Linked DNA regions of Homo sapiens: regions 2, 3 and 4 are each linked to region 1. Evidence: fine-mapped QTL for protein levels in blood plasma. A gene starts in region 1. Each other region holds a variant in brackets. All regions are shown on one strand. Distances are between the middles of the regions.

The links. A credible set is the group of variants that fine-mapping cannot tell apart. PIP is the chance, under the fine-mapping model, that this variant and not a neighbour inherited with it causes the effect. The UK Biobank Pharma Proteomics Project read protein levels with antibody pairs (Olink). The fine-mapping took linkage between variants from a reference panel, not from the people measured, so its PIPs are less certain.
Region 2: its variant is the best candidate, but not a certain one, in a credible set for the plasma level of the TIMP4 protein (UK Biobank, PIP 0.88).
Region 3: its variant is the best candidate, but not a certain one, in a credible set for the plasma level of the TIMP4 protein (UK Biobank, PIP 0.62).
Region 4: its variant is the best candidate, but not a certain one, in a credible set for the plasma level of the TIMP4 protein (UK Biobank, PIP 0.68).

Annotation. Positions count from the first base shown.
Region 1 is chr3:12,154,561-12,162,668 of GRCh38, forward strand. TIMP4 (TIMP metallopeptidase inhibitor 4) reads right to left here and starts at 4,352. Exons shown (of 5, transcript NM_003256.4): 1 at 4,142-4,352; 2 at 2,825-2,922; 3 at 2,260-2,374. The coding sequence starts at 4,280. It overlaps SYN2 (synapsin II), which reads left to right. Exons shown (of 13, transcript NM_133625.6): 6 at 6,986-7,048; 7 at 7,452-7,594.
Region 2 is chr3:12,124,261-12,132,368 of GRCh38, forward strand. The region is part of intron 1 of SYN2 (synapsin II); the gene reads left to right. Among named protein-coding and RNA genes, the nearest start is that of TIMP4, 31 kb to the right of the region's middle. The variant C/T (reference allele first, on the strand shown) is at 4,240.
Region 3 is chr3:12,090,874-12,098,981 of GRCh38, forward strand. The region is part of intron 1 of SYN2 (synapsin II); the gene reads left to right. Among named protein-coding and RNA genes, the nearest start is that of TIMP4, 64 kb to the right of the region's middle. The variant A/AGG (reference allele first, on the strand shown) is at 4,577.
Region 4 is chr3:12,109,631-12,117,738 of GRCh38, forward strand. The region is part of intron 1 of SYN2 (synapsin II); the gene reads left to right. Among named protein-coding and RNA genes, the nearest start is that of TIMP4, 45 kb to the right of the region's middle. The variant T/C (reference allele first, on the strand shown) is at 4,758.

The sequences.
Region 1 (8,108 bases):
GCAGTGGTGGCATGGGGCTCAGTGAAGGGACCAATAAATAAAACTACTATAATCTTTCTAGCAAAAAGATAAGCAGATTATGTTTGTACGAGGCAGAGTTGTGGGATCTGGTGAAGGCCTTTTCGTTTAGCATGGTACAGAGAGAAGAATGTGGTCTTTAAAGTCAAAGTCTGTGTGGGATCCCCCTTTCTTTTCTGTCATTTACTAGCTGAATGATCTTAAGGAAGTTGTATAACCTCTCAGCTGGAAGATGAAAATTATAAAGTTGTCAGATTAAATGAGAGATTGTCTATAAAGTTCCCAGCACAGTTGTGGTCCCACAGAAGATATTCAATAAATAATAGGTCCCTTCCCCTTTCCAGCCCTTCCCAGTATCTGCACAGGCCAGGCTCCTGCTCTAGATTGGTGAGTCTTTTACCTTCCCCATAGGAAATTTCCCCCTTTTTACCTATGAAGCTCCTTTTCACCTTTCAGACGAGATCGGGCGCGTTCAGGGTGGTATGGCCGTAGATTCCTTTTCACCTTTCAAAGACCCTTTCAGTGCCACCTCAAAGCCATCTCTGACCACCTAGCTAGCCCATGCCTCTTTTAGAACCTCAGTCGCTCAATCATTTACTCACTGAGTGACTGCTGTGATCTAGTACCAGGAATACAGATATAAAAATGACAGGATCTCTGCTCCCAAGGAGCTTAGAAATGAGTAGGGTAGATGGATAAGTAGGGAAAAATTACACTATTGTGTGGTTCTATACAAAGTGCAGTATAAGAACAAAGGAACATACAATTATTTCCATCTATGGAAGGAGTGTGGGGCAAAGAAGGTGTCTCAGAGAAGACTGTGCTTGCATTGGGCCTTGAAGGGATGAGTGGGAGTCTGCCTACCAAACAGGTTGGGGGAAGGGCTTCCTGTCATTGCCACTATCCTGTGCAGAGGCAGGGAGACACAGCCTGGCAGCATACCTTCTGCAACCACAGGTAGCTGAGTTCAGTTCTTGGGAAAGTGAGGGGCTGGGAACTGATATTGACAAAGCTAGAGAGGGCAGCAGTGTTCTGGTCACAAAGAGCTTTCAACACCAGGCAAAGGAGCTTGTGCCTTCTCCTGTAGGACCTGGGCACCATTGATAACTTTTCTTAGACTATTTTTTGTCATTTCTCCCCACCCTCAGTTAGACTTGACCTCCCTGAAGGCAGGGAACATGTTTCCTCATTTCCCCTGCTGTACCTCCATGCCTAGCAGCGGGCTAGACACACAGAGGGCAGGTGCTTAGGAAGGAGGTGCGATAATAGAGTTTGAAAGGGCCTGGTCTGCTAGACCTGGGAACTGCAGGGCTCAGTGGTGTGTCCTGCCTCTGCCTCTTCCATCCAGGAGCTCCTCAGTTCTGTACAATTCCACATCCTCAGAGCTAGGAAGCCCTTATCATTGTAGCCTCCAGTGCCTATGACTCATCAAGAGCCATGTCTGGACAGTGAACTCTTTTAAGGACTGTGCCTTGTTACTGAATCTCCACTCTCCTGGCCAAGGCATGGCAGTGACTAAGTGGTCATTCATTGCTGAATGTGTGGATAGATCGTGGAATCCCTTCACCTGTTCCCTCCCCCACTGCTGTGCTTTTTCTTTCCCTTGCTTTCTTTCTAAATATTGTTTTATGTTTTCAGGCCAGTTTAGATCCCACCTACACAATGAAGCTTCCCTGATAGTTCACAACTACCAAATAGTTCCGTTCTCTGAACTCCAAAATAATTTAATGTTGCATTCATTTATGGAGTCATATTTTTGTGTGATTCTTTAACTGTTCTATCCCAGCCAATTCAGTATGGAGGAATCCTGCCTGGGCCCAAGTTCACAGAGACAGAACTATGTTAGACTCAAGCTCCTGTTAAGTCCTGTGCAAAAGGCAGAGTTGACCTGCAAGGAGCAGTTTTAGAGAGGAGACTTCGACTCAAGTTGCCAAAAATCTTATACTAATTTAAACTATTTGAAAAACGGAAGCAGCTGCCCTACACTGGGTGAGCAGCCTGTCCTTAAAATAGTGAAACGGTGGCCAGGGTCACTGTACTAAGAACTCTTACATTTAAAGGGAGGTTACAAGGCTCCTCCTAACCCAGAGGTTGTCTGTCACTAACACAGCTCTGTTTTATGCCCAAGAAAATGCCACCTGGCTCAGCCTACTGCCCAAGGAAGACCCTGGCTCCTTTCTCACTACCTCCCCTAGGGCAGAATCTATTATATTAAGGCCAGTTGTTGGTCTTTTAACTTACCAGTCAAGAGATACTGCTTCTGGCTGTTGGCTTCTAGTTTCACACCACAGAGGGAAGAGTCAAAAGGCGTATAGATATACTGAACATCCTTGACTTTCTCAAACCCTTTGAACATCTGACAGGCAATTACAAAAAAAGGCAATATTGGGTCAGTGAGTGTACTGTATATATTAACAGACAAAAACCTCTCACTTCTCAGCCTAAAAATGTAAGCAAAAGTCTAGTTGAGGATTTTGTGTCCTCAGATGTCCCTACTGGGTTATTTTCTCTCTTAAAACAAAACAACAACAACAAAAAACACCTAAACCTTGGTTTATTCCAGTAGGTACCTGTAGTGGCACCATACACCAGCAGCTGTGGGACCAGATGGATGCTGAGGCCCTCCCTGGCAATATCCCTGGGATTCTATGGGCTCTGCCTCCAAATCTCATCCAGTTCCACTTCAGTATCTAGACCCAAGGATTACTGAGCCAGGCCACCTGAAAGCTACCAGCCCTCCCAGAACACAGACTCCACTTTCTCCATCAGCCTTAGGGGCTACACATCCCAGCCTGCCCCCATGTACCTTTATCTGTTTGATTTCATACCGGAGCATTTTTTCAGTGTCAGCAGGGTCTGCACTGGCCGGAACTACCTTCTCACTGGAGATTTTGGCCCGAATCACTGCATAGGAAGAGAAAAGAGGGAACCTTCAGCAGCTGGTGGGGGCAATACACCTGAGGTCTGGATGATCCAGGGTCCATGAAGAAGTCTATAGGGCAGTTCTTGGTTTTGGTGTGGCTGGGTTGTGAGCAACGTGATGTGTGAGAAGGGGGACCTGGAAACACCTCCCCTGCAGTCACTGGAAGTTCCAAACCCCTCAGGCTTATTAGGTCCTATAACCGCTAAGCTGTTTCTGCCTTTTGAACCAGTTAGTCTGGAGAGCTCTAGTTCTCCATAGCCGTTTGTGCAGTGGGGCACAGGGTAGGAGTCAGAGTAGAGAAGGGAGGAGGAGCCCCTTCAGGGCAGTCGGTGTGAAGTTTATCTATTGCTGTGGTCAAGGCCTCTCATCCCGCCTACAGTTGATATTAGTAAATGTTTATTGAATTCATAAATGTTCTGACCCTGCACTGAGGTATTGCATCTCTTGCCATTTGAGCATTAATAACCAAAAACTGTTGATGATGTTCTTCCTCTGTGCCTGGCCTTGCACTAGGCACTAGGCCCATAGATGTGATTAAGACAGGGTCCCCATCCTGCCGAGCTCTTGATCTAGTGGAGTGCACACGTGTAAAGAACAACAGCACAGCATAGTAGGAGCGCTAAGACGGTTAGAGATGCTGAGGCGGCACCAAGGAGCCCGGGAGCCTGCAGAGAAGGGGAGAGACCTAAGTTAGCCCTTGAAGGATGAGTAGGAGTCTGCCAGGAATTTAAGGGTGTGAGGGAGGGCATTCCAGGCAGAGGGAAGAGAAAGGACAGAACGTGTGTGTTGCCATAGGGGCTTGGTGGCAACCTCAGTTATAGGCCTGGACAGACACGGGTAGTTACAATGCAAGCCCTCTCCCCTCCCCTTTCTGTCCCCAGTCTAGTAGTTCAGAATAATCATCAGATAGCTCCGGTGACACCTTGTGTAATGACACTCCATAATTGCAGTATGGCCGGAGTGAGGGAGGTCGCTATGGAAGTCCCTGATGAAATCTTCATTTCCTTATGAATCAGTCAGGTTCTGGGCTTGCAAGGTTGCTATGGCGCCTGGTCCTTCTCCACCCATCAGCCTCAGCAAGAGACAACCGGTAAGAATTTGAGCTCCTCCCTTTTCCTCTGGACTCCTGGTGTACTGCTGGCCAGATACTAATCCCCCACAACCACCCCCTGCTGTGGACCTCGCGGACCTCGGACTCACCAAGTGCCGAGTGGCAGATGTGCTGCTGAGGGTGCGCCGGGGCGCAGCTGCATGCCTCACCCAGCCCCGGGGGCCGCAGCAACGCCAGCAGCCGCAGCAACAGCACCCAGCTTGGCGCGGGCCGAGGGCTCCCAGGCATGACACTGCAGATCCGCGACTGAGCCTGTGAGGTCTGGGGGACTGGACGGCCCCAGCAGGGCTCCTTCCCAAGGCCGTTGTGCCCCTCGCCCCAGGCTTTATGAGGTGGCCCTAAGGGCCAATCCCGCCCCGACGGGCTCCGCCTTCCTTTGGCTCTAGGCCACCCGCGGAGGCAGGACCCGAGGCTCTTCCGACCTGCATACTCAGTAAGATGCAGAGGGAAGCCTGGAAGGAGGCCCTGACCTCTGTTTCCCTGCCTAAGTCATGAAGCGATCTGGAAGCAGAGGGGAAGCACTGGGAGAGGGGATGGTGTCAAGGGCAGAAAGACGGAAAGAGCCACAAAGACAAATGCATGAGGACAGAAAAACTGAGGGCTGTGATTCAGGCAGAAAGAACAAGAGTGAGGAGAGGCACAGACAGAAAGAGTGAGACAGGCAGAGTCCCAGAGAGGCAGACAGAATTACAACAGGCAAAAGAGACAGTGACAGAGAAGGACGGACCCCTTGCTGAGCTGCACGCTGGGAATGAGACGAGCTACTCAGGGCTTCTTTCAGCTGCAGGAAGTGCTTTCAATGCCCTATTTATGAGGCTCCAAAGCAACAGCAAACAGTAATAGAACAGGACAGAGAAAGTTGGGGTGTGTGTGTCTTGGCTCTGTTGCCTGGGGGGTGGGGAGAGATGTCAAAGAAGCAGCCAGTGCTTTAGAAACCCTTTCTCACTCCCAGAGCCTCAGACTCTCCAGATAGCTGGAGACAGCGCTCTTGGTGTACAAAACACAAAGTGTCCCATCACTTAGGGCAAACCTTGGACCTCAAAGCCCTCTCGAGGCCCTAGACTACATTGATTTTTATTGCATGTCCCTTCTCACTGGAGACTCTGTCATGTTCTAGAAGGTGGGACAGCTTAGAAAACAAAGAAGCAGGCTGGGCGTGGTGGCTCACGCCTGTAATCTCAGCACTTTGGGAAGCCAAGGCGGGTTGATCACCTGAGGTCAGGAGTTCGAGATCACCCTAGCCATCATGATGAAACTCCGTCCCTACTAAAAATACAAAAGTTAGCCGGGCGTGGTGGCCTACACCTGTAGTCCCAGGTACTCAGGAGGCTGAGGCAAGAGAATGGCTTGAACCCAGGAGGCGGAGGTTGAAGTGAGCTGAGACTGTGCCACTGCACTCCAGTCTGGGCGACAGAGTGAGACTCCGTCTCAAAAAAAAAAAAAAAAAAAAAAAAGTAAAAGAAAAAACAAAGAAGCAGGGGACTTGGGGGTGACTGTGACCAGAGCCTTGTCTGCTGTTTGGGCACAGTGTTGCAAGCCTCCAAATCCCAAATCTCCATGGGATTATTGCTGTGGGATGTTTCCACATGGTGCTGGACTGGATAGTGGGAGGCTGGGTTCCAATTCTGACTGTCACTGTAGCTTTGTGACTTTTGCCTCTCTGGGCCTCAGTTTTTTCTTCATAAAGTAGAGTTGAACTACGTGATTTCTAAAGCCCTTTGAAGTTCTTCTTCCCATCCTTGGCTGGCCTCAACCAGGAATGCTGAGATCCTCAGGCCAGATACCCCCAGTATCTGTTCAAATCTTAGTTCCCATAGGAGTCTGACTTTTCATCAGGGTCAACATTATTTCCTTCAAAGGATACCTTTTCATTTTGATGGTGTTAGTGATATTTGAAAAGAAGGGAATTGAAAGAGAGCTGAGTCTGACTGAAAGATGAAATGCCCGGGTTAGCATCCAGGCTGGTTCTTCATACAATGTTCAGACCAAGATAGAGGCTGATGTACTATTTGAAGGGAGCTCAGAAAGCATCCCATCTGATCTCTTCATTGGACAGATGTGAAGGCTGAGGCCCAGTGAGATACAGTGACTTGTAGAAAGTCCGTGGCAGAAGAGGACTAGAGTACTCGTCTCCTGACATCTAGCCCAGTGCTCCTTCCACTCCACAATATTACTTCTTACATCACCATTTTGTAGCAGCTTGAAATCTTGCCCTTAGAGGATAATCCTTCTTTTAAGGTTTTGTTGCTCCTCTGTTAAAGTATGGCTACCTCAGTGTAGAGTTCGCTCCCCTAAGGATCTCTCTGCATTTATAAACATACTGAATTCTTCTACCGGCTCTCTTTCAAACCCCAAGCTGGGAAGAAATGGGCCTTCACATGCAAAGCCTTGTTTGGTGGTGAGATTGGGGTATTGGTGAGCAGTGAAGAGTGTGAAAGAGGGAGAAAACAACCAGGATCATTACAGGAAAGCTGGGCCTTTGAAGGTTGTAGGTACCAAGAGGGTACATGCTGACAGGGACATCAAGATGCCAAAGATGTGTTTTTAAAATAAAAATACAGGTTTATTAAAGTACATCTACATATAGTAAAGTTCACTCTTTCAGAGATACTTTCTTTTTTTAATTCTCTTTGTCTGAGGGCCAGTCCTGCCCAGGTTTTGTCTAATGCAGAGAAAATTGACAGTGCATTTTAAAGATGTAGGGTATACCAAATAAGAGTACAGGGTTCTTGTAGCACTGCCACTAATATGCTCTGTGACCCTGGGAACTCACTGTCATTCCATGGGTCTCAGTTTTTTAATCTGTAAAGCAAGTAGATTGGACTAGTTCTTTAAAGAACCCTCCCAAGGGTATTCCCAAGAAAAATATGTGTAGGATTCCACGGAGAGATGGGCACACTCTGACAGTTTATTCATTTCTCTTCTGATTTCAGCTGACACTGCCCACGTTCCCTGTGGTGGTGAAGATTGGCCACGCTCACTCAGGCATGGGCAAGGTGAGGCAGAGAGGCCTGCTGTGCTTCAGGGTTGAACCAAGAAGGGCAGTTTTCAGAGCGCCCATTTGTGAACTGCTATTCTCCCTCTGTCACTGATGAATTCTTTCCAAAGAGAAGATGATTTGCCACCTCTAAAGCCATGAGTGTCACCCAACCAGACCTCTTTCAGTAAGCAGAATGCAAGCCACCTGCTTGGTCCTCTGGGTCCTTTGCAGCAAGTGTGGCCCTTGAGTTCTGGGAAGGGAAGCTAGGGAGAAGGGGCCTCCTGGGGAGATGTGGCACCCAGATTAGTGTCTGGATCGGATACATATTGGTGGGTTTGGAGGCTCAGGGCCCTTGTGACTTCTCAGTGTGTGTATGTGTGTGTCTCCCTTTCCCCCTTTCTGCCCTGCTCTAACATTAGGTCAAAGTGGAAAACCACTACGACTTCCAGGACATTGCCAGCGTGGTGGCTCTCACCCAGACCTATGCCACTGCAGAGCCTTTCATTGACTCCAAGTATGACATCCGGGTCCAGAAGATTGGCAACAACTACAAGGCTTACATGTGAGTAAGAGTGGGGTATGTTTTCTCCTCAGTGATGATGGAAAAGCTGAGCCTCCACATTGCAGCCAACTCTCAGATAACAGAGAGGGTGCCACTTAAGTCAGAGATTTTTTTACCTGGGTTCCTTTTAAGTCAGAGGAGGGGTCTGTGGACTAAGATGAGAAAATATATTAATATTCATTTTCACTTGCCTCTAAGGGAAATTTAGCTTTCTCTTCATTTTGAACAGAGACGACAGACTACATTAGTTACCTGTACATAGGAGTTTGTCACTAAAGGTGATTACTGATTTTCTTAGATCTTAGATCTTATAGTTGAGACACATATCTCTATGGATTATTCTCATTCCTACTTTAAAATAATGGTACTTGTTAGGCTTGCCACTACCTCCTGTTACTTAGAAACACATATTTTACTAATCACAGATTTGTTTAATATTTTTGATAACTCTAATTGGGTAGCTCTGGGATCCCATGTACTCTATCTTATACAGTTACACATCTTATATATTGTG
Region 2 (8,108 bases), 30 kb before region 1:
AAATTAAAACATTGCCTAATAATATGTGACATAGGAGGAGAGTAAAGAGAGAAGGGGAATGACCAGTCCTAAAGTATACTAAAACTAGGGAGGAGAGTAGAGCTACTGATTAAAGTTATGTTTAGGTAAGTAAAGTATGTCCTTTTTTTAGAAAAGAAGTTAAGGCTAACCACAAAAAGAATAGAAATAAAATGTGTAATTACTAGAAAATTAAAGAGAAATGACTTGTGCAAGGGACCCCTGTACAAGAAAGATGAACTCAGCATTACTTGCAATAAGAAATTTCAGAGTAAACTAAATGTCCATCATAACAGATAAATAAATTGTGATGTATTCAAGTAATAAAAATAAATAGGCCAGGGTTTTGTATATTACCATGAATACATGTCAGAAATATAACACCGAGTGGGAAAAATGCAGGTCGTAGGCAGATAGATATAAAATAGCATCACTTATATTAAGCCCCAAACAAGCAAAACAGTACTATATTCAGTCTACGGATATATACACATGTAGTAAAACTATATAAAAACACATACAGGAATAATGAATGTTAATTCAGAGTAGTTATCCCTGGGGAAGGGATGTAGAGGAATAGGATTGGGGAGGAATATGCAAGCGATTTCAACAGTGTATATTAATATAGAAAAATATTAAGATCAATTAGCAAATAAACAAGTATGTTATATTCTTTAAATATAGCTGTATGACAAATAATGAAATTAAGTTTGGAGAAATGTATACAGCTGCTGAGGATTTTTCTTTTTTTTTTGAGATGGAGTCTCACCCTGTCGCCCAGGCTGGAGTGCAATGGCACAATCTTGGCTCACTGCAACCTCCGCCTCCCGGGTTCAAGTGATTCTCCTGCCTCAGCCTCCCAAGTAGCTGGGATTACAGGCGTGTGCCACCATGCTTGGCTAATTTTTTGTATCTTTTTCACCATGTTGGCCAGGGTGGTCTCAAACTCCTGACCTCGTGATCCACCCACCTCAGGCTCCCAAAGTGCTGGGACTACAGGCGTGAGCCACCACGCCCAGCCAGCTGCTGAGGATTCTAAGTTTATTTTTTCCACAGTAAGGCATAATATAAAGTGACGGAACAAATTTAATACTGCTGGGTCTGATTAAAATTTATAACTTTGAAGAAATAAACAGATTTGCATTTCTCCAAGATTATGTTTTCCCTAAGTGGTAGTTTGTCAACAGAAAGCTACACTCAATAAAATCTCAGAGATATCCAACTTCCAATACTTGCTGCTTTATTCAGGTCTGATCTGACCATCTGGAAGAATTTCATTAGGTTTTAATTATCATGCACTAAGAACATAAGCAGAGCATTTTCAAAGAGGAGCCTTCATTTCATGCTGAGTCTGAAAACCTTATCATAGGAGGAATGTTTGAGAGAATAGGGGTAGTATAGCCTGAAGAAGTGGTCTCAAGGGGCCCTGTTCACTGTCCCAGACAGGATGGACATGGACAAGAAAGAAGCAGACCAGTTTTATGTGGACAGAGCCAGAATCAAACAGCAAGCTTCAAAATGGCAAATGTCAGCCCAGCTTGAAAAAATGAATTGTCTAAAAGTGAAAAAAAAAAAAAAACCCACAAAACACACAAAAAAACTGAGAAATTTCTCTGATGTCCCCTTGTTATAAATATTACAGAGGAGATTTTTGCATTGGGGTATGAGGTAGGATATGATGATGTCATTTTAAGTTTCCTACACATGAATGACAGAGACAGACTAGAGTCTTTAAGTCACTCAAGTGAAGATAGTCATATACCAAAATTGTTTACACATAAGGGGAAAGCTACTCTTGGCCTCAGGCTTTTAGCTGTATTTTAGGAAACTCTCTAAAGCACAGAATCTGGAAACTGGGGAAACAATATTTAAGTAGAAATCTCGCTTCTAGAGAGTACTGTCAAGGTTTCTGCTTCATCATTCCCCAAATTCCAAATGATGTGCTTCATAGATCGGCAGAAGTCCCTCTCCTGGCCATTGGCAAACCAAGAAGCAAGGAACTGGCTTTATCCTACTTTATCCCTGTTGCCCTGGCACTTCCTGTCTGCCATATGTATATTCTGTATTATACGATAACTGCACCACCACTGGGCAGTGATTTGTGAATTTCACTTTCATGCTGTACTACCTTTGTTAAAGTCACTTGAAATGCCCTTTCCACATCACATATTGAAATCCTACTGTTTAATTTCTACACTGTCAGACCCTGAAAATATTAGAAGCCCTGTGGGTAAATCCCCTCCCAAATGAAGAAAAAACAATTCAGATGAATTCCTAATGTACAAAAATTTTTGAATAATGCCATATTTTAGTTGTAGTATGAAGTGGTTAATCTGCTCTGGAGTCAGTTTTCCTAGTTTCAAATCCTGAATCTTCCACCCAGTAGTTGTATGACCTTGAACAAGTTACTTAATCTCTTTGTGCCTTAGTTATCTGTAAATTTGGGAGATAATGCTATCTACCTTATATAATTCATTATGAGGATTAATTCATAAGGTGTATAAAGTGGTTAGCACAGGTACTAGTGCTTAATAGATATTAGTTGATATTAATTTCATTGCAGTTATAATTTTGGTGCTTGTACTTTAGATAACAATCTACGGTACTTCTCTCGAACACTAATTTATTTTTATTCTTCTTTGTTTTAGAGCAGGGTAAAGTCTTTCCTTCCCCTTCCCCCTACCAAGTGCCTTTCATATAGGTGAACAAATAATAGGTGCCTAATCTAATGAATCTTTGTTGCATGAGTAAATTAATTAGAATTACAATATTTTGAAAGGCTTATAGAATATATTTCATTACAACAGCACTACATAATGAACGTCTTTTCAAAGGAATGTGTCCAAACACTAGGGGTAAAAATGAACTAGGTTTTCAGGCTAACCAGCTTGAGTTGGTTTTTAAAACTACTTTTTAGAGCTTTTGAATGTGAAGTGTATTTCAATGGATCATTAGAGGTGGCTGAAAGGATGGACAAATTCACTGAGAAAAGAGCAAGAACAGCACTATCTGTCTTCATATTTCTCTATTAAGGCATGAGCTTATACTCTGGGCTAACCTTGATCTAACAAAAAGGACATTGTATTGAGAAGACATCAGCTTTCCCACCGTGTGATCTTGGTCAACTTTCTGTCTTTAAGCCTCTGTTTCTTTGCCTATGAGAGGATAGCATCTAAGGTCCATTTCTCCATTCAGAGCCTGTGTGGTTCCATGTTGCTAAACTCAAGTGCATCTGGGAACCTGTGGCATGACTCTTCCAGAACAGTGCCAGTTCTCCCAGCCTGCCAAAATTCAGTTGTTAGTGTCTGTTCTGGTGAATAATATCCCCACTGAACTGGCACCAGTTGGAAAATTGTAGAATGGAATGTGCCACCTGGGTTTGGATTTGGAAATCCAAAGTATTGTTGCCTTGAGGTATGAGGATGTTTCTGCTGCGCCATGGTGGTGAGTAGGCTGATAATGCCAGCCATGTCAGTTTGCACTTGGACCAGGAAAAGAGGATCAAGTCTCCTTTGCTAACAAAAGCAGAATGTGAGGAGATCTCTTTTATTTCCTTGCAGCAATTTGCTCTACGAACTGTGTACTGATGATGTGGTATTACAAACAGAATCAATGCATCAGCAAAATGATAAAAATAAAACTCCCTTGTGCTTCTATAATACTAAGCTGTTTACATTTTTTTTTTCAGACAGCATCTCACTCTGTTGCCCAGGCTGGAGTGCAGTGGTGTGAACATGGCTCACTGCAGCCTCAACATCCCAGGCTGAAGCGATCCTCCCACCTCAGCTCCTAAGTAGCTGGGACCACAGACACTAGCCACCATGCCAGACTAATTTTTTATTTTTTTGTAGAGACAGAATCTCATTATGTTGCCCAGGCTGGTTTCGAACTCCTGGACTCAAGTAATCCTCCCGCCTCAGTCTCCACAAGTGCTGGGATTACAGGTGTGAGCTACCACGCCCAGCCAATTATTTACATTCTTTATGATACTTGATCTCACAAGCGCTCTGAGTGGAAATCGGGTCCTCAGTTTCTACATCCTGTTATATCACTTAGGGATTTCTATGTGTTGAATTCCAGTCTTCTTCAATTTGGAGGAGAGTTACCTTTCTTGCTCTAAGGAGGCAGCATGGTGGAATGGAAAGGGAACATGGCCTGCCTCAAACTGTTGTTTGATCTTGAACTTGTCAAATTTCCCTTCTTCAGGCTTCTGTTTCTTCA[C/T]AAGTAAAATAAGTAAAAGATCTCTAAGCAAAATTTTCCCTCTCAGAAGGCTGAGGGAATATTATCTTGTTAATTTTTCATATTATCATGTGAATAAAATGTATAAATACTTCAGTAATTGTTGACTTATACCTAAAATAGAACATTAAGGTGGAAGATGGTCCCATCATACGTTGGAAAAAACATGTATTTGTCTATATTTATAAATGCCTGACCAGCATTAAAAGAATGAATTCATTTTGTTGAAATGCTCTCCATTTCAAAGAACTCACGCAGGAAAGTTTTTTTTAACCCAGTGGTTTTTACATAAAAAGAGGAGGAAAAAAACCCCTGAAATGTGTGGCTGTGGTGCACTTGATACTTTACATTCTCATTTACTCATTCAACAAACATTAGAGCACTAACATGTACCAGGCATTGTAACAGAGCTGGGCATGAGATTGATACAGTGGCTACCACCACAAGGTCGCTATTCTCATGGAGCTTACATTTTGGTTGGGCAGATGGATAATAAGTAGTTGAAAAAATTTCAAAATAGAAATAACGAAGAATAATAAAATGAATCATAAAAAATTTCAAAATAGAAATAAGAATAAAATGAATAATAAAAGATTTCAAAATAGAAATAATGAATATTATGAAGATAATATAGAGAATGATGGAGGGGGCACAGAGGAAACTACTTTTGTTCAGATAGTCAGTAGAAACATAGGAGGGAATATGTGAGCTGAGACTTACACATTAAAAAAGAAGCAGGACATGCAAAAATCTGAGGGAAAGTCGTACAAAAGCCCAAGAGGACAGATAATGTTTCAGGAATACATTAAAGGCAGAGTCATTTAATTCTAACAAACTTTGGAAATGGGTACTGTCCTTACCTTATAGATGAAGAAACAAGGAAGTAAAAGAGCCCAAGTTCAGACAGCAAGTAGAGGACCTGAGATTTAAACCCAGATTAGTCTAGCTCTAAAATTCACACTCTTTCCACTGTGCCACTCAGCAGTTGATGAAAATGCAAAATTTCGTGCAAAATGAGAAGGCATAAAGAATTTTTTCTGTGTAACATGGTGGGGAGGGCACTCTTCCTTCTTTTTGATTCAGGGAGTGTGTATACCCCAGCCAGAAGATGTAAATGGCTATTTGTTTTTGTCATCTGATAAACATATGGTATTGTGTATTTTTGTGTGATATTGTTTTGTGTATTATGGTTCCTTGTTCCCTTAAGTCCCAGGTGGGCAGGTGTCTTCTGCTGGGAATCAAGAAATAGGTCTTTACTGAGAGTGTTGTTATGGGCTGAATGTTTGTGTCCCCCAAATTTATATGTTGAAGCCCTAACCTCTAATATGATGGTATTTGGAGGTGGGGCCTTTGGGAGGTGATTAGGTTGAGATGAGGTCATGAGAGCGGGGCCCTCACGATGGTGTTAGTGTCCTCATAAGAAGAGAGACCACGGCTTGCTCACTGTCCTTCACATGTGAGGACACAGAGAAGGCAGCTGCAAACCAGGAAGAGTGCCCTCACCAGGAACTGAATCTGCTGGCACCTTGATCTGGACTTTCTAGCCTCCAGATCTGTGAGAAATAAATGTTGTTTAAGCCAGCCAGTCTATGGCATTTTGATATAGCAGCCCAAGTGTGTGTGTGTGTGTGTACATATATATATGTGTGTGTGAGTATACATAGGTATATGTGTGTCTGTACATATATACACAGAGAGATGTGTATGCATCTCTGTGTGCGTGTGTGTGTGTGTGCATGTGTGTGTGTTATAAAGAATTGGCTTTCACAGTTATGAGGCTGAGAAGTCCCAAGATCTGCAGTGGGCAAATGGGAAACCCAGGAGAGCTAATGATAGTTCCAGTCCAAGTCTGAAGGTCTGAGAACTGGGAGAGCCAATGGTATAAGTTTCAATCTGAGTCCAAAGGCAGGAGAAAAGCTATGTCCTTGCTTGAAGACAGGGAGAAAGAGCAAATTCTCCTGTACTCCACATTTTTGTTCTAATCAGACCTTCAGTGGGTTAAATGATGTCCATCCTCAGTGGGGAGGGCAATCTGCTTGACTCAGTCTACTCATTCAAATGTTAATCTCATCCAGCAACACCCTCACAAACACATTTAGAAATAATGTTTAAACAAATATCTGGGCACCTGTGGCCTAATCAAGTTAACACATAAAATTAACTGTCATAGATGTGCTTTGTATAAGGCAGTGGTGAGTGTGAGGTTGAGTTGTTGGAGAATAGGAAGGATGTATAAGACAGTATGCACTATCAGGGGGCTTCTGATACAGAGGAGAAAAGAGACACAAATTAAAAATCAGCTGATGATACTAGACTGTCTGTTTAAAGTGACAAATCAACAGGTTTCATTCGGACTAGGCTTCCAGAAGGAGGAGAAACTACTGCAGGAGAGGAGGTCAGGGAAGATTTCCTAAGGAGGCAGAACTTGTTTTGGACCTTGAAGAATTATGGCAGGGGTGATTTCACAGTGGTCCAAGGCACAGGGGCTGGGAAACTGTCTGAATTATAGAAGGAGTAGGGCAGGGCTCCTGCATATGCTTATGCAGGTTGTTCACTGTACAAGGACATCTATCTGAGGAGACAAGTAGGGGCTGGGATGCAGCCCCACATTCCACTCACCAATCCAAGTGCCCTGGTGCAGGAGTGTGTCCTGCAGGCATCCTGAGGAAGAGGTGCCTTTTTCTAATTCCTATGGAGACACTGAAGCAGACTTAAAAGAAGAGATACTAGTTGCAAACAGAAGGGTGAGACCAAATCATGGAGGACATTTCCTTGTATCTAGACTGCTACCAAAGGATGGGAACCTGCAGCTCTGGTGACAGCGGTGACTGTGGGTGTGATTCGTGACCGTACAGTGGAGGTAGACCTGCAGTATTCAAGATGCTAGGAGCCTTACATATCTGGCATAAAATAAAGCCAAATCTTCAAAATTATATTTGCCTGCTCTTCAAAGCAAACTTGATAACTGACCCACTTTGCTCCAATATCAAATCAGCCTGATTTAATTTTATAAGTCAGTCATGGAAAGAAAATCTGTCCCATGACTCCAAAGCATTCTGTTCTGTAGCTCCACTATAATTACAGACAAATGCATCTAATCTTCCCGTCATGTGTTCTCCTGAGTTACAGGATTCTTTTTTTTTTTCCTGTATTTGATAATCTTGTTATCTTGTGATACTGCATCATTTAATTATTCCCCAAAATAGAGATCTTCAGAAAATCTATTCAGAAAAAGTGATTTGCTGTTCCCAACTGAAATCACAGCTGGGATGTTTACACAGAAATTAGTTATTTTCAGATCTTTGGGATTGCTGCTTTTCTTAAGAGATCTCATCTGCCACATAAGGCTGTTGAAGCCTCCCACAGATCACCTGATGAAATTTCATAAACTCCAGAGAAGGCATTCACAGAGGTCTTCAAGCCTAGGACTCTGTATTAGATTGAGCCTGGTTGCTCTCTCTGATTTTTTTCTTTTTCTTTTTCTTTTTTTTCCTTTCTTTTCTTTTTCTTTTTTTTCTTTTTTTTTCTTTTTTTTTTTGAGACAGGGTTTCACCATGTTGGCCAGGCTGCACTCGAACTCCTGGGCTCAAGTGATCCTCCAGCCTCAGCCTCCCAGGTAGTTTGGACTGCAGGCACATGCCATAGCACTCAGCTGTCCTCTGATATTAACCTTCAGATATCTAGCTGTGTTCAGTAACTCTATAAACATTTCATGTGTCAAACAGTAGGACAGGCTTTGGTAACACAAAATGAGTAGAGCAGAGTCCTCACCTAAGGAAGTATATGGTCTCTAAACTTGATCATCAAAAGAGTTGGAATTTAATTTGACTAGCTCTGCCACCTTCTAACTG
Region 3 (8,108 bases), 64 kb before region 1:
ACTAAATGGTTTGCTTTGAGTGATAGATGTATTTAAAATGTTATAAGACAAACTCATGTAAATTTGGCATTCTATTCCATAATATTGTGTTCCATAATGTAGTTAGTTTTAATATCAGCATGTTTTAAATTGTTTTTAGGGAAATGGAAATTCAAAACTTCCTTCTTCTATCTCTTCCCCTCATAATCTTGGTAGATGGAGGGCTTAAGTCTAGAAGAATGATCAACACTAAACTGTTTATAATAGTTTGCTTTCAGAGGTGGGATTGTAGAGAAATTTAAGTTTATGTTTTTATATTCCTTGGGCTCATTACAACTATATACTAAGAACAATCATTGTGTAAAATTGGTACTACAAAAAGAATCTCTATGGGTATTCTGTGAGGATATGTATTTTTTTTCTCATTACTCTTATTTAAGGAGCATGGAGCTATAAGAAGATAACCTTGCTCTAATATTTTCTCAGAAATATTTTGATAGTTTATAAGCTAAATGATAGCTTGTAATGTTAGCATTTGCCAAACTGTTTGCTGTGATCTATATGGGAAAATTTAATTAATCAGCTATGGAGAGATGGAGAAGTAGACTGATTATTATAGCCTTTTTAAAAGGTAACAGATCCTCACAGCTCAAGTAATTCTTATAAGTGAGACCCAGAGACAGAAAGTGACTTATTTGAGATCACATCCAATATTAGCAGAAGAGCTAGGATTTGAAGCCAGGTATTTTGCCTTGTCTCAGAGCTGTTAGCATTTACTTAATTTGGGGTATTTTTAAAATTTAAGTTGGATTATGGGTATTATTTATGCTAGTAATTTGCTTCTGTCAAAATAGTTAAGCCTCAAGACTTAGTGGGAACACTAACAGTGGTCTACCCCCTGTATTTTGTTCCACACTCAACATCTCTGCAGGCTGTCTATTGGAATAGAGGGTTTGACCACCAAATAAATGTAAGCAGCCTATGTACAACTGTTTTCTATAAAGACTTACTTGGATATTGAGAGGCAGGTGTGTTTATTGCAAAATGAATGTTAAATCTTCTAATAACTTCTGGATTTGAGTTCAGAACTACTTTGGCCAACTGACAAAATAATTGCACAAAATGTAGATAAACTATCAATGGAGGAAGATGTCACTAAAACAGGTAATTCAGGCAGATCACTACAGATCAATCCATTCTTCTTTTTGCAAAGAAAATTCATTTTTTTAAAAAAGTGTGTTTTTCACCCAAATATGCTTTCTTTAACTCTTCTTGCACATTTAAGGCCGATTATCAGAGGATACTTGGAATCTGAACTTTTTTTAGACTGTATGTGAGGAAATAATGGAAAATATTTTAATTCCTTCACTATTAAATGGAGCACCAAACGTTCAAACTTTCCTCGCTATACTTTTAAGCATAATTTCTAAAGATAATTAGGATTTAGATTTAAGTATAGAAAAATCTATATGTTGCTCTTTCTTTAAGAGGTGGTTAAGACACAATCATTGCTTTCCACGAGCTCATTCTAGTAGGGAATACAAATGAGAGCAATTAACCTCTCATCTGTGAGAGAAAGGCTTGTATAGAGAGGTATGGGGAGCATAGAGGAAGAAGTAAGTTAGTTTACCTGGAGGGGTCATATCTGAATGGCTTTGAAGAGAGTAAAATTTCTCCAGACAAAGGAACTATTATTCCAAGCAGATCTTTCTGAGCTTCTGTGAATTCAAAACACTTATTAGCTATACCACTTATTTGGCATCCCTGGACCACTCATATTATTTCATTTCTCATGCCTTATGTCTTCAGCCAGATTCTAGGCTTCCTGGGGGTCAAAGACTGTGTTTCATATGTCATTGCATTGTTTCAGCACTGACTCTAGTGTTTCAAAATGTTTTGTATAGTTGGTACACAATTAATGTTTGTTGATTGACCACCTTAACATTTGAGAGGTGGAAGAAGGGCCTGTTGAGCCAGAGTTTGAGGTGACTTTGGAATAATTTTTTAGGTTTCTTGATCAGTATTAAAGACCCATTGGATCTCTGAGAATAGCTTTATCTATAACATTTTCCCTTTTTCCCCATTTTCATTACTACCCTCACTGGGGGTTCTCTGTGACTTCTCCCAGGGCCTGTTAGCCATCCTGATTACTTTTCCTCTCCCACAGGGTGCCTTTGACCTTAAAGTTATTATTTTTCCTCTTTGGGCATCTGTTTTCTCATCAGTAAAATAACATGAAAGTAATCTTTAAGTTTCTTTCTAGCTCCAATATTCTGTGATGCCATTGTCCAGAATCTCTACTGAATGGGGGAGCAAATTATGTATCACATTTTTTGTTATAAAAATCAAATTGGTTTATTGAACAGATTCTGGAGAATAAAACCTTCATTCAAGCCTCAGCCTTAGTGGTCATATTAGTATTGTGGTCTCTGTGGGTTTTTAATCAAAGAAAACTGTGGACATAGGAATGGTATCATTTGTCAGTGTAAGCTGCAATGAAGAAATGCAAGGTAGAAAAAGATGACTGACATCATTAGACCCACTTTGACAAGTGTGATATTATTCTCAAAGTACTCCCGGGCATGTGAGTTATTTTTGTCTCCTGTGGGTCAGAGTCTGGGGCTTGTTCTCCTCCCCTGGTAAGATAGCTAGTTTAATGATGGCTCTGCCATCACTGAAGTACATTTGGTCTTAATAATGGGCTTAAATTTTTCTTGGTTCTGTTGGGAACTTCAGCTGTAACAAGGAAACTTAGTAGTAACGATACTTTGATGTGGGAAAAACTAAGCACCTTTTGCTGAAATCAGTTGCTCTCATCACTGACTTTGAGCATGTTATTTTCCTTTCCACATTAGCGTCTTTTTTCTAGGTGTCCTGCTGTTCTTTGCTGATATCCTTACTCTATATCCTAACTGTTCTAATGGTTACTTTTCAAAAGTACATCTCTATCCCCTGACTGCCTTTTCTCCTTTCTCTAAAAGTCTTATAAGAAGGCTCTGCCCTGCAATTTTTTTTTTTTTTTGAGATGGAGTCTTGCTCTGTTGCCCAGGCTAGAGTGCAGTGGCATAATCTTGGTTCACTGCAACCTGTGCCTCTTGGGTTCAAGAGATTCTTCTGCCTCAGCCTCCTAAGTAGCTGGGACTACAGGCACATGCCACCACGCCCAGAATTTTGTGTATTTTTAGTAGAGATGGGATTTCACATGTTGGCCAGGCTGGTCTTGAACTCCTGACCTCAGGTGATCCGCCCACCTCAATCTCCCAAAGTGCTAGGATTACAGGCATGAGCCACCGTGCCTGGCCCCTGCAATTTAATATTTAGTTCTCTACTGTCTAATATTATTAATCTGTTTTGTGTGTGTTCATTTTGTCTCCTTAAATAGATTATTTGCTTCTTGAAGGCAAGGAGTAATCTTTGTTGATTTCGTAATCCTAGTATCATTGGGTTGGCCCCAGAAACAGGATGGAGGAAGGAGTGAAAGAGTGTAAAAGACAACATTTATTGAATTCATACCCTTTACTAGGCACTGTGATATGTACCTTATATTTTATAAAAAAAATTTATAACAGCCTAAAGATAGGAAATATCAGTTCCATCTCAGTCCTGAGGAGACTTGGCCTCAGAAAGGCTAGGTGGGGTGCCAGAGGCAGTGTGGATTCAGGCATATTTGGTATTAAGTCACCTCCATCTATGCCATTTACTTTTTGTGTAACCACAGTAAGTAACTTAGCCATTCTGAGTCTCAGTTTCAAGATGAGGGGGTGAGTGTAATACCTACTCTGTTGGGTTCTTGTGAACCTTAGTAAGAAAGATAAGGTATTTAAGGGGCCTTTGAGTGCCTAGCACATAGAATATCTCTAAACAATACATATTTGACAATAGAATGGACAGGATTTGCTACTGGATTGGTTATGATGCACAAGGAGAGAAGAGTAAAGCATGACTCCCAGGTGTCATCTTGAACACTTGAGAAGAGTATATAATTCACAGAGAATATGGAATGCTAGAAGAAAAACAGGTATGGAAGGGAAATATTGAGTTTAATTATATGTTGAATAGGCAACTGAATTTATAAGTCTGGAGCTCAGAGGAGAGATCTGAAACAAAGATACAGTGTAAATCTTGGAGTTGTTGGCCTACGTGTGGTGACTGATGTTCTTAGATAGAAGAGAGAGAAAAGGCAAAGTAAGATGGCCTAAGTTCTGAAGAACTTCAACACCAGCAGACAGGTTGAAGAACCAGGAAACTAGTTTGACGAAAGCCAAAGGAAGAAAACATTTCAAGACAGAATCATCTACACATGATGTCACTTTGTTCTCACCTTCCACTTACTCTTCAGCTCACTACAGTCTGGCTTCCGTACCATTCCCCTCAATTACACTAAAATAGCTCTTTTTTAAAGGACCGTCAGGCTGGGAGCAGTGACTAAAGCCCGTAATCCTAGCACATTGGGAGGCCGAGGCAGGTGGATCACAAGGTCAGGAGATCATCGAGACCATCCTGGCTAACACAGTGAAACCTCGTCTCTACTAAAAAATACAAAAAATTAGCTGGGCATGGTGGCGGGCACCTGTAGTCCTAGCTACTCGGGAGACTG[A/AGG]GGCAGGAGAATGGTGTGAACCCGGGAGTCAGAGCTTTCAGTGAGCCGAGATGGCGCCACTGCACTCCAGCCTGGGCGACAAAGCGAGACTCCGTCTCAAAAAAAAAAAAAAAAAAAAAAAAAAGGACCATCATCCCCCAGTTGGACAGATTTGGTGGGTATTTCTCTATCTTCATTGAACTTGTTCTGTCGCCATCATTCAACAAAGTTGACCATTCCTTCTTCTTTCCCCCTACTTGGTGGCTGCTCTTTTTTAGTATCTTTTCATCATCATTCCCCCAGTACCAGATCTCTAAGTGTTGGGATTTCTCAGGGCTCAAAACAGAGCCCTTAGTTGTTCTCTTTCTGTAAATTATTTTCTTGGGTGATTGCAGCCATCACCATAGATTTCATACCATCTTGGTCTTAATGACTTCCCAATTTTTACCTCCAGTAAGACCTATCCTTGAACTTCAAATATCTGCATGACATCCCCACTTGCAGTTCTTATGTACGCATCCAAAACTGAACTCTTGAATTTTTCCTCCTTCAAACTCATCTCCTTCCCAGCACTTCCTTTCCATCTCAATAAATAGTACAACCATCAACCCAATCAAGCTAGAACCTTGGGGTCACTTTTGATACCTTCCCCTGCCATTCATGACATCTAACTTGACACTATGTCAAATCTGTTATACCTTTAGAATTTATCTCATGTCATCCATTTCTCCTAGGCCAGGTCACCATCAGTGTGACCTACAGTCTTGAAATTACTTCCTATCTTAAAGCTTTCAGCCTTGCTTTCCTATAAATCTTTCTCTATACAGCAGGGAAAGAGATCTCCTAAAAATGTAAACTTGATAGGGCATGTATGAGTGGAAGATAAAATTAAGCATTTTCACATTAAAAGACAGATTCTTGTTGGCTCCTTCAGAGTATTACAGCAGGTCAGGGGGTGGCTTAGAAGAGAACCCAGGTGTTCTGAGAACCAGTCCAGAGCTCCAGAAGGACATCCTCACTAATAGGATTCCAAGTGACATTTTCACAAAGTTAAATGAGAATAAAGCACATGGCTTTTCTGTTATTCTGTTAGTTATAAGACTTTTGCTACTAGATTATATTATAAAATTCATTTGTGATCATCAGCTTCTGCTTGTTTGTGATTTTAATTCACTACGTAAAATACATTCATATAACTAAAGGAAACTATATCTAAAAAACTAAAGGAAATATGAGAATGATGTCTCCCCAAATAAGGAGAGAGAGTGAATGAGAATGAGTGTGTGTGTGTAACTCTCTCCATATATAGTAGAAGTTTTGCAGTTTAAAAGTTAGTAACAAATGAAAAATTTACTAGAGAGGTTAAATAGATTTAAGCAGGAAAAAAAATGAACTTGAAAATAGATCAGTTGAGATTATACAATCTGGGGAACAGAAAGAAAAAAATGTACAGAGCCTCAAGGACCTGTAGAGCACCATCAAGTATACCAACATAAACAATGAGAGTCCCAGAAGGAGAAAGGAAAATAGGAGCAGAGAGAATATTTGAAGAAACAATGACAGGAACCTCCCCACACTGATGAAATACAAGAATTTATTCATCCAGAGGTGGAGAAATAGGAACACTTTTACACTGTTGGTGGGACTGTAAACTAGTTCAACCATTGTGGAAGACAGTGTGGCGATTCCTCAAGGATCTAGAACTAGAAGTACCATTTGACTCAGCCATCCCATTACTGGGTATATACCCAAAGGATTATAAATCATGCTGCTATAAAGACACATGCACACGTATGTTTATTGCGGCACTATTCACAATAGCAAAGACTTGGAACCTTGGAACCAGCCCAAATGTCCATCAATGATAGACTGGATTAAGAAAATGTGGCACATAATGGCCGGGTGCGGTGGCTAATGCTTGTAATCCCAGCACTTTGGGAGGCCAAGATGGGTGGATAACGAGGTCAGGAGATCAAGACCATCCTGGCTAACACGGTGAAACCCCTTCTCTACTAAAAATACAAAAAATTGGCCGGGTGTGGTGGCGCACGCCTGTAGTCCTAGCTACTCGGGAGGCTGAGGCAGGAGAATGGTGTGAACCCACAAGGCGGAGCTTGCAGTGAGCCAAGATCACACCACTGCACTCCAGCCTGGGCGACAGAGCGAGACTCCATCTCAACAAAAAAAAAAAAAAGAAAGAAAAAAGAAAATGTGTCACATATACACCATGGAATACTATGCAGCCATAAAAAAGGATGAGTTCATGTCCTTTGTAGGGACATGGATGAAGCTGGAAACCATCATTCTCAGCAAACTCTCGCAAGGACAGAAAACCAAACCCCACATGTTCTCACTCATAGGTGGGAATTGAACAATGAGAACACTTGGACACAGAGTGGGGAACATCACACACCAGGGCCTGTTGTGGGGTGGAGGAAGTGGGGAGGGATAGCATTAGGAGATATACCTAATGTAAATGACCCATGTAATGGGTGCAGCATACCAGCATGGCACATGTATACATATGTAACAAACCGGCATGTTGTGCACATGTACCCTAGAACTTAGAAAGTATAATTAAAAAAAAAGAATTTATTCATCTGAGAAGATCAATGAACTCTAAGTAGGATACATTTTTGAAAGTTTGAACACACCATAATCAAACTGTTGAAAGCCAAACCCAAAGTCAGTCTTGAAAGTAGCAAAAGAGAAGTGAGTCATCATGTAGAAGAGATCTTAAAAAGATTAACAGCTTATTCTCATCAGAAACCATGGAGACCAGAGGCAGTGGGATGACACATTCAAAATGCTAAGAGAAAAAGACTATCAGCAAAGAATTCTGTTTCTAACAACATTTTTCTTCAAAAGTGAAGGAGAAATTAAAACATTCCTAGATGTACAAAAAAATGAGAGATTGTTGCTAGCAGTAGTTATAAATTTGTGTCAGTGGGCATACAATATATAAAAATACTTATATGATAATAGCACAAAGGATGTAGGGTGAGGAGGGAATGGAACTATATAGGAAGAAAATTTTTGTAAACTATTGTAATTGGTATCAATCCAAACAAGTTTGTTACAAATTAATATGTTAATTGTAATTCCCTAGACAACCACTAAGAAAGTAACTTTTTAAAAAAAGTAAATAAATGACAAAGGTATTTAAATGGTATAGTAGAAAATGCAAATTTAGCACAAAAGAGATTAATGGAGGAATAGGGGAATAAAAAATTAAGATATAGGGAAAACAAGCAACAAAATGTCAGATGTAATTCCTACCTTAATAATTACATTAAATGAAATTAGATTAAACACTTAAAAAACAGAATGACAGAATGTATTTTAAAAGAACATGATTCAACTATATGCTGTCTACAAGAGTTACACATTAAAGTCATTAAAGTCACAAATAGGTTAAAAGCAAAAGCATATATATATATATATATATATATAATGCAAATAGTAACCAAAAGAGAGTTGGAATGACTGTGCCAATATTAGACAAAATAGACATTAGATAAAAATTGCTACCAGAGACAAAGAAGAGCATGAT
Region 4 (8,108 bases), 45 kb before region 1:
TCCAAATTTCCTTGATTTTTTTCTTGACACCAGCCTTTTCCTCTGTAAGGAAGGGAATAAGACCCAGCTATATCTATAACTCTTCTGGGTTTGGGGTAGATACAGGATGATTGGAGGGAAGTCTGCCCGTGCAAGAGGCAATAGAGTATATAAAGACTCGGACTTGGGAGAAATTCAGATCTAAGTTTGTATCCTTACCCCTACCATTTAAAAGCTAAGTAACCTAAGACAAGTTTTTAAATAAAACCTCTGTATTTTCTTTTTTAAAATAGTGATATACTGGGCACAGTGGCTCATGCCTGTAATCCCAACTCTCCAAGGCCAAGATGGGAGGATCGCTTGAGCCTGGGAGTTTGAGACCAACCTAGGCAACATAGCAAGACCCCATCTCTACAAAAAATTTAAAAGATTAGCTGGGTGTAGTGATGTGTACCTGTAGTCCCAGCTACTGGGGAGGCTGAGACAAGAGGGTTGCTTGAGCCCAGGGTTCAAGTGTACAGTGAGCTGTGATTGTGCCACTGTATTCCATCCTGGGCAACAGAGGGAGACCCTGTCTAAAAACATAAAATGGTAATAATTGTAATACTTACTCTTAAAACTCCAAAATGATCCTTTGACTCCATGTCTCACATCCGGATCACATGGAGGCAAAAGGTGGGTTCCCATGGTCTTGGGCAGCTCTGTACCTGTGACTTTGCAGGGGTATAGCCTTCTTCCTGGTTGCTTTCACTGGCTGGCATTGAGTGCCTGAAGCTTTTCCGGGCACTTGGTGCAAGCTGTTGGTGGATCTGCCATTATGGGGTCGGAGGACAGTGGCCCTCTTCTCACAGCTCCACTAGGTGATGCCCCAGTAGGGACTCTGGGAGAGCTCTGATCCCACATTTCACTTCTGCACTGCTGTAGCAGAGGTTCTCTGTGAGAGCCCTGCCCCTGCAGCAGACTTCTTCCTGGACATCTAGGCATTTCTATACATCCTCCGAAATCTAGGCAGAGGTTCCCAAACCCCAATTCTTGACTTCTGTGCACTTGTACAGCACAGGGACTCTGGCCCGGCCCATGAAACTATTTTTTCCTCCTAGGCCTCTGGGCCTGTGATGGGAGGAGCTGCTGTGAAGACCTCTGACTACCCTGCTGTATTTCAGACTTGCATGGGGCCTGCAGCCCCTTTGTTTTGGCCAATTTCTCCCATTTGGAAAGGCTGTATTTACCCATTGCCTGTACCCCCATTGTATCTGGGAAGTAACTAACTTGCTTTTGATTTTATAGGCTCCTAGCCAGAAGGGACTTGCCTTGTCTTGGATGAGACTTTGGACTGGACTTTTGAGTTAATGCTGAAATGAGTTAAGACTTCAGGGGACTGTTGGGAAGGCATGGTTGGTTTTGAAATGTGAGGACATGAGGTTTGGGAGGAGCCAGGGGTGGAATGATATGGTTTGGCTGTGTCCCCACCCCAATCTCATCTTCCCATGTGTTGTGGGAGGGACCCAGTAGGAAATAATTGAATCAGGGGGGCAGATCTTTCCTGTGCTGTTCTCATGATAGTGAATAAGTCTCATGAGATCTGATGGGTTTAAAAAGGAGAGTTCCCCTGCGGAAGTTCTTTGCCTGCTGCCATCCATGTAAGACATGACTTGCTCCTCCTTGCCTTCTGCCATGATTGTGAGGCCTCCCCAGCCACTTGGAGCTGTAAGTCCATTAAGCCTTTCTCCTGTATGAATTACCCAGTCTCGGGTATGTCTTTATTAGCAGTGTGTAAATGGACTAATACACTTACCTAATGGGGTTGTGGTCTGTATATACTTAGCATGGTATCTGTCATTTTGACCCTCAATAAAGGTTGTTATTATTTTCATCATCAGGATTATCATAATCTCATCCTATTCAGATCCTTTTCAGGTCCTTCGGCAACCCTAAAGAACTAGAAATTCCTAAGCACTCCTATTTGATGGTTTGGAGGAAGCGTTTTCATCTTTTAGCAGATCTTACTTTTTAGACCTTCCTCTATATCTTAAGTGGGACTTCTGACTCAAAAGCTTTGAATTTACTTTTAATGTCAATATATTACCCACTCTACTGGCTTACCGAGTGGTTCTGGTTAGTAGGCTGTTTTTTAAGAAAAACAGATCCAAACTCCTTGCTCATCAGTTCACTGCTTTGGGCCATTCATTCCTAGGGATATTGACTACTGTTCCACGTTGACAAATTAGAGAATCCTTGGCTAGTGTAGTGTGATGTATTATTTTGGGATGCCCACGCATTAAGGGGCTGGGAGAAGGAATCCTGGTGTCTGATAAAATGAAATAGAATCTGGGTCATGGCATCATTGTTGTATCCAGCAGGCTTCTGGGAAGGCAACTTTCAGAAACTTCTTAGGACATTGGCAGAAACTCTGAGGTGAGACCCCTGGGTGAATTGGTATGGTTTGTTTCCCTAGAATCTCTGCTAAGAGGGGGAGCAGTGTTTGTCACTGAAAAACATGAGTGTGGTGTAACCTAAGGAGAGGCTTATCAGAAGTGCTCTGAGTCTAGAAGAGCCTTCTGCTTGGGATCTGAAAGCAAAGCACTGGTGTACAAGTAAAATATCATGCTACAGTTTGACTGTCTGCTATCCCCTGCCCCATTGTTCCACTTCTTTGATCAGCTCTATTTTCTTTGAGGGTATTCCTGGCAACTTCACAGTCAGATTCAATGAATTAATTTTATTTTTTAATTCAGCATTGATTAATTGCCCCTGTCAAATGAACGGTGACATGGGCCACTTAGGTTTGGTTCACTATTTGGGGTGCCTATCCTGTACTCAAACCCAGCTTATAGCTGTGGAAGACAAAGACCTCCACAGCTATAGGGTATGCTTTCAAAAATTTTGCAGTGGAGTTACAAGTCTGTTAACCCATTAAAATATAAAAGTACTAAGAATCTCTCACATTATGTAGTATTTGGCAGTGTGCAAAATATTGCACATAATTCTCTAGGTTATCACAGTGACCCCTATAAACCTTGTTAATTATTATATAGATTTTCTAGATGAGGGCTCTAAAACCAAAAGAGGAGAAAGTATTCAACCAAGGTCATAGCAAATTAATAGTGATTGGCAGACTAAAACATAAACCTATTTCTTCTGCCTCCACGTGAAAGTTCATTATACTATACCACAGCTGCTTCCATGGATATCTTGCAGTGCACTTTTAAAAAAAATAAATACCCCAGGAGTTAAGTCATATCCGGTTAGCATATGGTATATAATTGTGGTACAAGTAGTAAATTCTATGATAGTCCAGAGAGGAATGATCATCATGGGCTGTAAAGACCAGGGAATGCTTTGTAGAGTAGGTAAGACTTGAGTTGAACCTTACATGAATGAAGGAACTGTCAAGAAGGTATTTAGTGCCTGTTCTTTTGAGTGACAGAGCTTTCTTGTGCAGAGGGCTTTGTGCACGTTCTAGGCCCCGTGGTGGTCTTAGTCTGTCTGTTATCATCCTAAAGAAGCATTTCATTCTCTTCTCTGTTCTGTGCTCTAGGGATATTTGTGGTCCAGATCAGCATCCTAGTTCTTGTACCAATATCTTCATGCAATATTTTTTTCCACCAAAGTATTCCTAAGGAGAAGAGTGTACGTATGTAACCCAATAGTTGCTGCCCTTCACTTGAAATATTTTGAAATCTTGTTTTGATTCTAATATGTTATATATGATTTACATTTTCTCCATAATATTTGTAATTATTTAATGTAAAAGCCCTTAAAAAAGGAGGGGAAAAAACTCTGAGTAAAAGTTATGCTTCGAGAAAATTAGCTATATTTACCCCTCCCCATTTAAAAAATTGAGGTACTATTCACAAAATATAAGATTCATCATTTTAACCATTTTAAGGTGTACAATCCGGTGCCATTAAGTGCATTCACAGTGTTGTACAATCCTCACCACTATCTAATCCAGAAATTTCTCATCGCCCCAAAAGGAAACCCTGTGCCCATTCTTCATTTCCCTTTCCCTCAACCCTGGTAACCACTAATCTACTTTCTGTTTTATGGATTAACTTATTCTAATATTTAATAAAAATGAAATCACACAATGTACTAGTTTTGGTGTTCGATTTCTTTGACTTAGTGTAATCTTTTCAAGTTTAATTCATGTTGTAGTGTCAGTACTTCATTCCTCTTTATGGCTGAATAATATTTCATTATATTGATATACCATGTTTTGTTTATCCATTCATCAGTTGATGGACATTTTGGGCTATTTTCACCTTTTCCCTATTGTAAATAGTGTTGCTATGAACATTCATGTACAAGTTTTCATTTGAACACCTGTTTTCAGTTCCCAGAATGGAATTGTTGGATCATGGTAACTCTATGTTTAACTTCCTGAGAAACTACCAGACTGTTCTCTATAATGCTGCACCGTTTTATATTCCCACCAAGAGTGTATGAAAGTTTCCATTTTTCCACAAGCTTGCCACCACTTGTTGGCAATAGACAATAGTCCATCTTTTTTTTTTTTTATTGTAGCTATACTAGTGGTGTGAAGTGATATCTCATTGTGGTTTTGATTTGCATTCCCTTAATGACGAATGATGTTGAGCATCTTTTTATGTGCTTCTTGGCTAGTTGGATGTGTTCTTTGGAGAACTATCTATTCAAGTCCTTTGCCCAATTTTTAATTCTGTCATCTTTTATTGTTGAGTTGTAAGGGCTGTTTATATATTCTGGGTAAATAAACTGTTATGAGATATATGATTTGCAAATATTTTCTCCCATTA[T/C]GTAAATTATTTTCATTTTCTTGGTAGTGTCCCTTGATGCCCAGAGTTTTTACTCTTGATGAAAGCCAATTTGTTTTTTCTTTGGTTACTTGTGCTTTTGGTGTATATCTTAAAAATCTTGCTTACTCTAAGATCATGAAGATTTATCTCTATGTTTTCTTCTAACAGTTTTATAGTTTTATCCTTTGGACTTTGACCCATTTGAGTTAATTTTTGTGTAGTGTTATAATGTTAATGGTAGAATCTAGGTGGGGGGTTCTCTGTAAAATCCCTTCAACTCTCAACTTCACCATATGTTTGAAATTTTTCATAAAAAAATATTGAAGGGAGAAGGAAACCAAATTTAGAAACTTATTATTTAGAAATGTACTATTTCTTCTTTGAGCATCCCCTCTTCCCCACCTTCTCCACAGCTTCAGAAGAGAACCGTAATGTAGGTTAAAGGCAGTTGCTGGACAAGGAGAACGTAGCAGTGCACTCACCAGGCTCCAAGCTAACATGAGAGCTTTCTATTAACCACAACTCCTCTGTTAGCCTGTAACTTTCTGTTCTGTCACCCCGAATCTTTCCTCCACAATATGCCCCCAAGAAACTTGCCTTTCCATCCCCAATGTTATCCCCAGTTGCTGTTTCTGTTAGATAAATGCCTTATTACCCTGAAATGACTTCACCTTTGTCATTTCAAAGAATGATCTAATTTTCATCTGAACAAAGGCATTTTTGCAGAAAGAAAACTCCATTGAGAATCAGCAAACATGTGTTCTAGAGTAGACTCAGTCAGGTAAGTGACTTGTGCAAGGTCAAATAATTGATAAATGGTAGAAACAGAGTTTGGGTCCAGAACACCTTATTCCGGTTTATCATTAGTACTGCTCTTTAGGACCTAAAGGAATGCATGGTGGAGTTTCAGAAAGCAAGGATATATTTCATCACTCAGATTCTGCTGCATGGACAACTACCTACTTTAGAATCTAGCTCTGTAAGTAAAATCAACTTTTGAGGGAAGAATGTCCACAGCCAGTTTTCAGTGGCTGCATAAGAACAGTTTCAACCCTCGTATCTTGTACTTTACCTACAAAAAAGTGCCAAGAAAGTTGGCTGTGAAAAGCGTGAATTTTTGTGCCATATATCAGATGAAACCTTCTAGGATTCAGGTTTCTCCTTTAAACTTTTATTCATTCCGTATTTTTAATAAGCTATCATAGGGTTCTTCTGAAACCAGTTCCTTAGAAAAGGTGTGCAAGGGACCCAGAATTCCAATTTACATAGGAACTTAAATCCCAAGGGGTTCTGGCTGATGGTCTTTGATTTTTGCCTCCCTAAATTTACATTAGGGTAAAAGATTATGTTTTGGGAGTGCTGTCTTGCTCCCCAGAATATAACTATATTTTCCCCCAGCACTCAGTACACTATGTAGCATATAGTAGGCATTCTGTGAACTTCTGATGAATTGTTGGCTTCCTCACAGCAGGGTCTGGAATTGTTCATCTCTGTACACCCATCTCCTAGTACAGCACCTCCTAGCATATAATAGGTTTTCAAAAATTAATTGCATTGATATTGTTACTTCACTTTTAGGTAAGTGCCTATCCTTTTAACTAGGCGTTTCTCAGTCAAGACTGTCAGAGCCCTGAATGAGTCATTGAGTCAGGATTAGAGGGTTAATGATAGCCCAGAAAAGATAGGCACCACTTGTTAGCTGATTCATGGGGCTAATGTCAGCTCTTTTAGGGGACGTGGCCTAGATAAATCAAAGTCTGGCAATAATGAACCCATAGCCCGCAGACAGCAAAAATTATGGACCTTTCTGAACTCCTGCAAAGGAAATGAAAAACTCTTTAATCAGATTTCTGGACTTGAAACTAGGGATTTTTGTAAGGATGCTGTATTTCAGATTGCCAACATGGAATTGGGGAGCATGATCAGAGAAAGGTTGGAAGAAGAGGGGAAGATAATAGGGACTTAGCTGGAAGAAGGAAAAGGAAAAGGTTGCCCGGAAAGCAGAGAGAAAGATGACCTGAAACAAGAGTAACCATGGTCTCACCTTGGTTTTGTGATCGGTCAATGATCTGGTGGCAAACGAACTTTTTGCTAGAGAGCTATATCCTCAGAGTGGCCAGAATATCCACTGTCTTAGGTTTGACTTCAGTAGTTATCATTCTCACAACCCTTTTCTAGTCATATGAGATGGGATCCAAAGTAAGCTTTATGTGTTTTGTGGAGAACGAGGGGAAGAGGCATTAAACAGTCTCCTCCTCTACAGTAAAGATTCTCAGAGGCATTTATCATATTTTGGAGAGGGTTCCCCTTTGTTGATTACAAATGTGGCTGTGAGCTCTAAAATCTAGGGCATACTTTATTTATTTATTTTTGTTTTTTTGAGACAGGGTCTCCATTCTCTTGCCCAAGCTAGAATATAGTGGCAGGATCATAGCTCCCTGTAGCCTCACCTTCCTGGGCTGAAGTGATCCCCCTGCCTCAGCCTCACGAGTAGGTGGGACTACAGGCATGCACACCATGCCCAGCTAATTTTTTATTTTTTTTGTAGAGACAGGGTCTCACTATGTTACCCAGGCTGGTCTCGAACTCCTCAGCTTAAGCAATCTTCCTGCCTTAGCCTTTCAAAATATGGAGATTATAGGCATTCACCACCACACCCAGCCCGTCTAAGGCATTCTTGATTGGAGTCTAACCTCAGGAGGAAACAAACGTCATTGTAGTGTCAATATTACCCAATAATTTTCTGTCCTTTGGAAGTTACATAAAATCAGTGCAGTTGGTTACAACCCCATGTCCTTTTCCCCACCTTCATGGATTTATAAAAAGATGTACCATCACTGTGATCTCTCCTTGTTCACATGAGCTTAAATATGGGATCACTGGATCCAGTTGTTATTCTTAGAGAAAACAACAAGGCACTTTCTTCCAGTGATCTCTACTGAATCATTCAGCATTTACGTTTTGAGTGACAACTTTCTTAGGTACTTGGGATTCAATGTTGAGATAGACAGATTTAGTCCCTAATTGTACCTTACCAATGTACAATCCTTAGAAGAAATATCCTATCTTATTTAAATCTGTTCTCTAAATCAAGTGCTGGAAATTACTTCAGATATATTGCTCTGAATTTTGTGCCTGTGTAAGAGCTCATCATTCATTGTTTAGAGAGGAACCAGGAGACAGAGAACTAACTCTATCCCAACTCACCCTCCCAAATAACATCAGGAACTGGAACCAACAGCATTCTGGATGGTATGAGTGGGAAGTGCCAGAATCTGTTACATAACCTGTGAAAAATTCTGCCTTGGGGTTGCAGTTAGAGTTGTCAAGTTTTAAATCTTCTCCTCTGTG